Regions from separate parts of the Homo sapiens genome. Here region 2 is linked to region 1. Evidence: fine-mapped expression QTL. A gene starts in region 1. The other region holds a variant in brackets. All regions are shown on one strand. Distances are between the middles of the regions.

What was found.
Region 2: its variant is fine-mapped to the expression of PLEKHH1 in transverse colon (GTEx, PIP 0.90).

Annotation. Positions count from the first base shown.
Region 1 is chr14:67,531,131-67,536,501 of GRCh38, reverse strand. PLEKHH1 (pleckstrin homology, MyTH4 and FERM domain containing H1) reads right to left here and starts at 3,212. Exons shown (of 29, transcript NM_020715.3): 1 at 3,104-3,212. It also overlaps a transcript of GPHN not described here and a transcript of TMEM229B not described here. RefSeq lists a silencer at 3,119-3,588.
Region 2 is chr14:67,572,814-67,578,184 of GRCh38, reverse strand. PLEKHH1 (pleckstrin homology, MyTH4 and FERM domain containing H1) reads right to left here. Exons shown (of 29, transcript NM_020715.3): 12 at 4,799-4,909; 13 at 4,298-4,384; 14 at 3,782-3,943; 15 at 2,713-2,793; 16 at 2,180-2,362; 17 at 1,682-1,790; 18 at 771-883; 19 at 1-162. It also overlaps a transcript of GPHN not described here. Among named protein-coding and RNA genes, the nearest start is that of PIGH, 25 kb to the left of the region's middle. The variant T/C (reference allele first, on the strand shown) is at 2,328.

The DNA.
Region 1 (5,371 bases):
TATGCACAGTTTCCACTGGGCTCTCTCATATTGCCTCAGTATGGTTCATTCCCTGAGTGTGAGTATCTGTATGACTTCCACTTGCTAGTGAGGGGCTACCACCATCTTCTAAAAGTGCTCTGCCAGACGTGGCTGACTACTTGTCAATTGTGGGAGAGAAACAGCTTTGTGTCCCGTTTCTGGGGATGAGGCTGGGAGAAGGGTGTGAGTGTACACAGGGACAACTTCCTCTGATCTCAGCACTGTCATCTGATCAAGCTAACAACATCCATTTGGCCACTGCTGGGTGCCTACATGACATTCCACACAATGTCCGGGGAGACAGAGAAGGTGAGCATGTCCTAGGCCGCAGGAACCTCAATACCAAAAGAAGTGGTCAGGACAACCAGGTACAACATTCCTTGAGAACAAAAACAGCAAAGAGAAACAGCTTAGTACCTAAGATCCCATGCTCTGGCACTGACAGGCCTGGGTTTGAATACGAGCTCAGGCACTAAATAATCCTGTGGCCTTAAGCCATTTGCTTAACTTCTTTGAGACTCAGTTCCATTCTGAAATTGAGGGCAGTAATATTTGAAAATCAGGACAATAATATTTGGTTGAACCATATGAAACCGTCATTTAACCATTTTCCAACCTTCAAAATGGCCATTTCATATATCACATCATGCAGGGCTTTTTGAGAATTAAAGGAGATATTACAAAAGCCTGGTGCACACTAAGTACTCAATAAATGACTGTTATTGTTGTAATCAGCAAACAAAGGCAAACCAATAGCATCTAGAACATAAAAGGAGATGTGGCCCAAAGATGTGCTCACGAGGCTGGGCACGGTGGCTCAAGCCTGTAATCCCAGCACTTTGGGAGGTGGAGGCAGGCGGCTTACCTGAGGTCAGGAGTTCAACCAGACTGGCCAACATGGTGAAACCCTGTCTCTACTAAAAATACAAAAATTAGCCAGGTGTGGTGGCGCATGCCTGTTAATCCCAGCCACTTGGGAGGCTAAGGCAGGTGAACTGCTTGAACCCTGGAGGCGGAGGTTGTAGTGAGCTGAGATTGCACCACTGCACTCCAGCCTGGGCAACAGAGCGAGACTCTGGCTCAAAAAAAAAAAAAAAAAAAAAAAAAAAAGATGTGCTCACTACCAGATCTAACTCTGGAGATCTGGAGAGGAGGTCATATGATTTTTAAAGTTATTTTAGAACATTGAACAAAAGGGTATATAGTGCAAAGTAAGGCTTCTTCCCATGCCTGTACTTCAGCCATAGTTCTCCCCAGCGGCAACCACTGTTACAGGTTTCTGTGTGTTCTCTCAGAGATATTCAGAGCATCTACAGGCATTCATATGTATGTGGCATTCACACACCCACCCAAAAATCGTGGCCCACCATACACACTGTACTCAACAATATAACTTAGAGATATTCCTACATCAAAGTATATATCTGCCACATTTTCTCTGCACGCTTTATAACAGCTTTAATGTATCCTATCGTGTGGCTTTTACATGATCTTATTGAAGGGTTCCTTATTGATGGACATCTAGATTGTTTCCAACCTTTTGCTAAACAATGCTGCAATGAATATTCAATGATGTACACCATTTCATATACATCAGAGTATATCTGAAGGATAAAGTCCCAGAAAATGGAATTTAGGGGTAAATGATGTACACTTTAAATTGCCAGACATTTCTTTGGATTTTTTTTTTTCTATCAGGAATGGGAGGAACATGCTCTCCCCTACAGCTGGTGACTTCTGAAGAGGGCAGAAGAGGCTCCACATTTTTTCAGCTTAGTTGTTAGTTTCAATGAGTTTGGGGCCACAGGCTGCACCCCACAATTGCCCAACTCTGAGCAGGCCCCCTCAGCAGTCTATGGGAAGGTGGTAGAAGTGGACTGAACCATACGTTAGGAATTTAGGAGGCTTGGGTTTCAGTTATGGCTCTTCCACTTTTTAGCTATGTGACCATGGGCATATCACAACAATTTTTTTTTTAACAGACAGGATCATCAGCCTCCCAAGTTAGCTGGGACTACAGGCCCACACCACCACACCCAGCTAATTTTTAAATTTTTATTTATTTGTAGACACAGGGTCTCCCTATGTTGCCCAGGCTGGTCTTGAACTCCTGGCATCAAGCTCTCCTCCTGCCTTGGCTTCCCAAAGTGCTGGGATTACAGGCATAAGCCACTGCAACTGGCCTAAATCACAACTTTTCAGAGTCCCAGCTTCCTCCTTTGGAAAAATGGGGCCAATAATATGCAGAAACACTAATACCGATGTTCTATAAAGCGTTCAGTGATGGTACTAGCCCTATACACAGTGTCTGTCACATAGAAGACAGTCCAAACAGTTTGATGAAGGAACTGATAATTCTCCCACTGAATTTTTTAAATGGTCTTTCAAGTGTTTTACCTGAACCAAGGCTCTGTCTTGGAAGAGTTTTATGAGGTGGATTCATAGTAAAAGCTATGGAGGAGATATCCTGGCAAGCAGAAATCCCACAAGGAGAGGAGTTTCCTTCCAGATGAGGCTCTTCACCGCCTCTGCCACCCCCACTAAGGCCCCTGGTTCCTGGTGACCGAGTCCTCGCTAAGACTCCTAGGACACAATGCTCTGTGTCATTCGGCGCCCAACCTGTTTTCTTTTCTGCTTGAATGACCTGCTCCTAGGAGTCGAGCCTGAGCCATAGGGTCCCAAAGACAACACTCAGAAATCACAGAAGAAATAACCTGAGGTGAGATGGGGAGGGGTGCGGGAAGGGGTGAAAGGGAGCGAGCACCGATAGCAAGGTGGCAGCCTGCACGTCCGCTCCGAGGGCCCTTCCCAGGAGCGGCTGGATCTGACCGATCCCCAAGTCCAGGTACTCCCGGGGGAGGCTCCTCCTGGCCTCGCGGCGCGAGTCCCCTGGGGCGCCCGGCTTCCCAAGCCAGACCCGCGCTCCAGCGCTCCCCGCCGCTGGGAGCTCGCTTCCAGGTAGGGAGGCACCTGCTCCGGATCGTCCTCTGGGCCCGAGGGGCCGTCCCCCGCGCGCAGCCTGACGCCCTCCGCCGCGGCGCAGCCCCAGCCCACCACAGCGGCGGGAGCGCGGGTCGCTCACCTCCAGCGAGCTCGCGGCCGTCCCCGCCGCGCACTGGGCACACGGGCGCCCTCGGGCCGCCGCCGCAGCCGACCTTGCGTCGCTCTCGCCGGAGTCCCGGGCTGCCGCCGGTTCTCCCCTCCCCGGCAGCAGGGGTCGTGGGCTGCGGGGCGGGGCGAGGCTGGAGCGGGAGGGGTGCCCGCGGGCTCGCTGCACAAAGCCCGGCCGAGCCTTGCTGCGCCCCATTCAACGCTCCGCCGGGCGCCCTCCTCCCCTCGGCTCCCCGCCCGCTCCTTAAAGGCAGAGCGCTGGGCTCAGCTCTCCAGGCAGCTCGCGGAGAGGCACAGGAAATGACCTCAGCAGGCTCCAGCCTCCCACTTCTCCGCACCGCTGGGCTCGTCCCTGGGGCGGCAGGGAGGGCGGCGGGGTGTCCCGGGCGCCGGCCCGGAGCTCTCCGAGGAGGCCGCACCAGCTGCCGCAAGGGGTGGCCAGAGCGCCCCGGGGATCTGCTTGACCCCAAATAGCGGGGGACCCTCGCGGGCTGCGGGACAAGACCAGACCGTCTCCGCCAAAGGTTCCAGCATTCTCCTGGCCACCTGTGGGAACTGTAACGTCTGGATATTTGGAACAGAAGTCCATATTTCAGTCTGGCAGACCAAATGTTCTGAGTTGCAATTTGCAGGAGAAAAAGAAAAAATAAGTTACGACAGCCCAGAGAGTAACTTACTTGCTTATTTTCTGGTCTCGCTATGTTGCCCAGGCTGGACTCGAACTCCGGAGCTCAAGTGATCTTCCCGCCTGGGCCTCCAGGCCGGCTTATGTATATGTTATTTTAAAGGAGGGCCCAGGAGGACCCTGGCTGCCAGGCAGTTTGCAGGGCAGTCATCAGCGTGCCCATGTGCTCCTCGTTCTCAGACATTTGCAGATCTCAGATCGCCCAAAGCAATCTCATACCCAGAGGGGTTGGAAAACTCAACATTTGGCTAGGTGAGCCTGGAGTAAAGAAGATGCAAATAGAGACCATTGCAGGGAGGGATCCACACTTCAAAACAGAGCCTTCTTCCTCAACCCTGCAGGCTCTCTGTCAGTGAAGGACTGAACAGAAGCAAAATACCATCAGCGCCTGTTTCTCCAAATGGTCCTTGGAAGACTCATCCCAGGCACCATGAAGAACACCCCCACCCTGGGTTTGAATCTGAATCTCTAACTAAAGTACCCCAGGCCATTCTCACGTAGAAGTTTTGAGAGCCCAGACACTAAGGAAAGCTGGTAGTGCAGGAGGCCAAACGTGAGAATTTAACTGGGCCAATGGGACTTCAATGGCTGAACTTGCAAACAGCTTTATAGCTCGTGGGGATTGGGATAGATTAGCCCCATTTTGTGGGACAATGCTCAGGCTATCCACTTCAACATTCCAGAAGTTGCATAAGGAAGCCCAAAAACACGTTCTCTGGATTTTGCTAAGAAGACATTAATTCATTCATTCACTTTTTTTTTTTTTTTTTTTTTGGACATAGGTTCTTCTTGTTCTGTTCTCCAGGCTGGATTGCAGTGGCACAATCATAGCTCACTGTAACTTGAACTCCTGGGCTCAAGCAATCCTCCCATCTCAGCCTCATGAACAGCTGGGACTATAGGCACATGCTACTATACCCAGCAAAAAAAAAAAAAAAAATTTTTTTTTTTTTTTAGTAGAGGTGGGGTCTCAAACTCCTGGACTCAAGAAATCCTCCTGCCTCGGCCTCCCAAAGTGCTGGGATTACAGGGATGAGCCACCGCACCTCGGCCCAGAACTCATTTAATATAACTTTGTTATATAGTGAAAAGAGACGCACCATGGAGAGTGGAATGGGAGGAGCATGCTCTCCCCTATAGCTGGTTACTTCTGTAGAGGGCAGAAGAGACTCCACATTTTTTTCAGCTCAGTTGTTACTTTCAATGAGTTTGGGGCCATAGAGTGCATCTCACCATTGCCCAACTCTGAGCAGGACCCCTTGGCAGTCTGTGGGAGGGTGGTAGAGGTGGACTGAACCCTACATTAGGAATTTAGGAGGCTTGAGTTTCAGTTATGTCTCTTCCACTTTTTAGCTATGTGACTTGGGCAAGTTACAACTTTTGTTGTTGTTGTTGTTTTCTTTTAAGAGATAAGATCTTGCTCTGTTGCCTAAGCTAGAATGCAGTGGCAATCATAGCTCATTGCAGCCCAGAACTCCTAGGCTCAAGCAGTCCTTCTGCCTCAGCCTCCCAGGTAGCTGGGACTATAATACCCACCATCACCCCTAGAGCCCC
Region 2 (5,371 bases), 42 kb before region 1:
CTTCTGAGGTGGGCGGCAGCTGGTCTGCTTCATGAGTTGGCAGTAGATCTCACTCTGCAGCTCGGGGTGAACCAGGCAGACCTGCAGTGCGGTCTGGGCCAGGGACACATGGTAGTCCACCGAGGCAGCTTCCACCGGCACGTTGATGAAGAGCTGGCAGGACTGGGAGGGAACAGCAGTGAGCACAGGCAGACCAGCATCCCCTGGGTTCAGAGAACTCAACGGCTTGGCCATTTTCCAAGGGCTCCAGGGAGGTTAGAGTTTACTGACAGCCCTTTCTAAGAGGGAGCACTGCTACTGTTGGAGGGCATCTCTGCTTACTAAAAGGGGCTATGGGCTACTTTGGGATAGAAGTTTCCTTTTTAAAATGTTCTCATTACATTACATAAACAAGACAAATTCCTTAAAAAAAACAAAAACAAAAACAGAAAACTCAAACATTCACAAAGGACATGCTAAAATAGGTCCGAATCTCTCAGTCCAGAAGCAACATAAACCTCGCCTTTTCTGCTTAACTACAGGAGGAGGGGAGCTCCTCCAGGGAGAGTTTTCATTGGCATTTCCCAAGGACTTGTGCATGACGTTCCAGAGCTGCTTCCCTCCCAGTGACAGGATTACATTCCTGCCATCCAGGAAGTGATAGGGACCCTGGGAAGTTTCCTTCCCTTCCTCTCCAGATCCCTCTGTGGGTTGTCCCCAACTGCACAGGCCTTCTCCACCCAAGTATTGCAAGTATCCCAGCGGTGGGCCTGGCCGCCACCCCAATTTACCTTGAAGAGCTTGAGGGCCTCCGTCTGCAAGGCCTCAGAGGGCAGGGTGGTGAGGGAGGCGTATAGGCCGTCTTTGCTGTAGCACAGCATGGGGTGCCTCCAGAGCGGCGAATCTGCCCAAAGCACGGAACCAGAGAGCAAGGGCAGTTACTACTGAGAGGGGACTCATCTCCCACTCACCGCCATCTTTAATTTATGGGGAAGATAGTGGTTTATCTTCCGTCAACACTTGGGTTGTGCTGGGTTTATCATCCATAGAGTGTGGGGTGTACAGGTGGGCACTGCAATGAGCACCCTCATATAAGCATGGCCTTTCTCGTGGAATGGCAGTAGGGGTGAGTGTGCAAGGTTGTGGGTGTCTGAGTGCAGGTGGATGTGTGCAGGGGAGGCCTCTTTCTTACTGTGTCAAGTCTGGATGGAGGGGCATATGAATTGGTCAGAAACAAACAAGCCTCAGAGCAGTAGTAAAGGGGTGTGTGTGGTATATGCCATTAATTAGTTCCTCAGGGCCCTGATAATCAGTAGCAAAAGAAAGACTCCAAACAGGTTAGTCCGATCCCAATTTAGGCTTCACTTGTTGATTTACAAACTCTAACTATAGATTAACCAGCTACCTTCTTTCCTCAGCCCTCTGCCCAGCCAGCAACGGGGCAGCTTGATCCAAGTAAAACATTTACCCAGGTCCCTGGAAAGCCTGCTTCCCAGATAAACTCCCCCAGATGCAGAGTGGTCACCTTAGTATCTCAGCCGGAGACAGAGGGGCCCTGGAGCTTGGATGGGAACTTCCCCTCTGTGGCTTAGATGTTTTAAAAACAGCTTCAGGGTACAACACTGCTTTCTTTGGGATCTTGACCAATAGTCACCAAGCCACTACCCTCCAACCCAAGCAGTGGTGGCCACCCTTGCCTTACCTGGATCTCCTTCACCATCCATCAGTTTTCCAATGAGCTGCTCATAGGCAGTGCCCACCTTGGCACTGCTGCCACCTGCAGCCACTGTGAGGTGGTAGAGCCACGTATCCTGGAAGAGGGCGGAAAGCCATCGGATGGGGACGGGGTGGGAAGAGTGGAGGCAAGAGCTCCAAGGAGGACTCCTTGAAGGGACCAAGCCCATGTGGGGTTCAGCTAGTTTGGTTGGCATGAGTCAGGGCTACCTGGAAAGACTGAGGATCAGGTGAACATGAACCCAACTTTCCAAATTTGCGATTCTATTACATGACCTCAGTGAAGCAATGTTGGTCACTGGGAATAAATTCAGTATAAAGGAATATTCCCATTCAGAGAATATTAGTTGCCAAAGTGTCCAAAAGGAAATAAATTTGAATTTTGGGAAGCTCAGGAGAAAGAGAGAAGGGAAGATCAGAATCACAGGTCCAAGCTTGGCCCTGGAGGCCCAGCCCTCTTCCTTACCTTTTCATGCTTGGTGCCAATGAGGAGGTAGGTGGGGCTGTGCTCTGTGGGGTGGATCACCAGGGTGCAGTGGGAGGAAAGCAACCGTCTGGTTCCTCCAGCCTCATAGTCCTCGTCTGAGTCACAGGATCGATCTACTTCCTCTATG[T/C]GCGCATCCCGCACAGGCAGGCAGCCCAGGGGTCGCTGTGGACAGCAGTCTTCCATGAATGGGAGAGCCAGTGGGGGATGAGGGAGTCTCCTCTCTCTGAATACATAGGCTCCGTGAAGCTGGGAATCGTGGATATGGACCGATGACAGGATGGGGAGGTGGAGACTATAGCATCCCAGCCAGGCTGGCAGCAGAATGAGGCTTGCTTGGAGAAGCACCAGAGACCCAGACAGGCAGAATCTCACACTCTGGAGGGATCCAGCCAACTGATTTTGTATTTATTGTGGGGTTACGTGGGGTAGGGACTTTCATCAGGACATAGAGTGGCAGTCATGTGCTTCGGGGGAAGCAGGAGAGTGGGTATTGTGAGGAGGCTGAGAAGTACCTTGTCCTCATGGCTCCGATAGTAGTAGAAGATTTTCCCAACAAGAGCGCACCAGACCACCTTGGAGTGGCCATGCTTTACCTGTAAGACAGAAATGAACTGGCATTATGAGAACTAGGTAACTCTAGAAGTAAATCCAGGACTGGCAAATAGAAGCCACAGGGAGACAGATTTGACCTATGGTAGAGATGGAGATGCCATTTGGGCTCCCTACTAATGGAACCACCCCTTTCACAGTGAGGGTGCCATGACACCCTGTGGCACCCCAGCCATCATGGGCTATTCAGTGACCTATGACCTGCCATGAAACGATTAGCCAGGCCAATCAGATGTCCCCTCCAGGCATATGAAAATAGGAAGAACTTGCTAGGTGGCAGAAGCCACAGTTGTCAGGGTGCCGGGAGGGAGGGAGGGAAAACAGCAGGCTGAAGCCCTTGGGCAACCATGCATCATGAAGGAACAGAAGCTGCACACGGGCGAAGGAGAATGACATAAACAGATTGAACGAGAAGCAGAGCCACACAGCGAGCCTGCCAGCCCTGAGCTTGCTGAGTGCAAGTCGCTTTGGTTCCTGCTGGTGTTCTGGTCTAGCTAATGTACTTCCTTGTTAACTTCCATTTTCTTGGGTTTAACAACTGCTTCTCTGCTCTGTTCAACCAGAAGAGCCCTAACAAAAATGTCTTTAGGGCAGGCCTGGGATACTTTAAGTCTTTGAGGAGCCATACCTACCTCGCCCAGGCCTCTTCCTCCCACTATTAACACTGAGGCAGGTATAAGGTGGGGGTGGGTGACAGCCCCTAATGACCTCAAAATGGATACAAGATAGTCCCTTCCCTTCTCTTTCTTGAGAATAGTTGTTCCAACAACCCTGATTTGTTTCCGGGGAATCACTCGCCATCACCTTGTGTGGCCAGACCACGTTTGAGGGCTGGCCAGCGAGTCACTGTGAGGAGGCTCCCAGAGAAAGGAGCCCCGTATAAGGGGGAACCCACCACCCTCGGCACCCCAATCCTGGCTCCCCTGATTCGCAGGAGGCACATGTTCCTGCCCTATCAGCCCCACCCTCTACCTTGGTCAGCCAGCCCTTCACGGTGGGCTTGGTGCCACCCCGAAGCAGAGCTGGAGGCCCGGTGGCCTGCACCTTCAGCAGGCTCTGGAGTACTCGGATCCACTCCTCCAGCAGGCTGGGTGAATCGGCCGTCAGGTAGTAGGTTTTCTTCTCAGAGATGAGCTGTGGAGGGCGAGATATGGGGGTGGGGCAGCACGCTGGGAGAATGGAGTAACCAGGACCTGGCTCCGAGGTGGCACCTGTCCCTGAACCCAAGGGGCTGGCCTTCTGCCTGCCCTAGTGCTCCCTCCTTTCTTTTCCTCCTCATCTTTTCCTCCCTGTCTCTCCTTCCTTCACTCCATCTCTCATATTCTGTCTCATCTTCCTTTCTTGTACTCACAAGTTAGGATCACGTCCAAATGTTGATCTGAAGTCTTTCATTCATGCTCATTTGGCCCCATCTTTGTCTCACTCACGGCCATATCCAAACCCAGCACCTCTTCTGTTTAAAATACTAGCAGCCAGGAGCGTGCTCACCTGAAACGTCTGTGAACCCTCCCCTCGAACAATTTGGCAGCGGGAGTTCAGATCCACTTGGCCTTGAGGTTTCCGGATGACATCACTCTGTAAAGAAAGTATTGGAGAGGAGAGCCACTGAATGTGGAGCCTTTCCGGAGCACCTCATTTACCCTCAGATCTTCCTCCACGTCATAAGCAAAGGGAAACATGATTCCCAGCATTCTGGCTGTGTTATGATGGGTGACTTATTCTAGATTCTGGTTATAGCTAAATGGAACCTTAATCAGGAACATGGGTCCTTCTGAGAACCTCCCTATTTCATTCTGAAACTCACGGCCAGGCTTAGGTCCCCAAGTGTGGCTCAAAGCCTCAGGGGCCCAGTGAGGTTGCCTCTCCCCACCTGCCAGACCTTTGCCCTCTGGCCTTGGGCCACATTCCCCCTCCTCCGTCCCATCTGACATAGTCCAGGGTGTGATGTGGAGACCTTTTGACTGCAGTGCTGGGCGGGGAGACTCTCACCGGGGACTTGTAGTACATAATCTGTCCCTGTCTCAGGACAAACCAGCGCCTCTTCCACGTCTTCACCTGGCTCCCCATTTTCAGCAGGTAGCCCGACTTCTCCAGTGACTCCTGAGGGGTGGAAGGGTGTAGATGAAGAAAGGGGAAATCACTCAGGGCTCCTAGACATCACACAGGTCCAAGTGGTCCAGCTGCCTCACTACTCGGTCATCAATTAAATACAAAATTATTGAGTACCTACTCAGTGTATTTTCAGAGTACCATGCCCTGCTATGGTTCAGAGAGGACTAAATAAAACATGGGTGGTCCTGCCAAGGAAGGGCTCCCATGCTAGCTGGGGAAGACCTCACTATGAGAAGGTAGCAGAGCAGGGGCTGCTAGAGGGAGAGCCTGGCCAGGGAGAGCGTCAGGAGAGAGCCGGCCCTGAGCTGGCCTTGTTAGGATAGTTCAGCCTCTCCCTCAAAGACTGAGAGGAGGAAGAAGACCATTCCAGGCAGCACAGAGCAGGGAGAGGGCAAGGCAGGTCTGGGCAACCTGGACACATCAGCCAGGCAGGACTGGAGGGTCATGGAG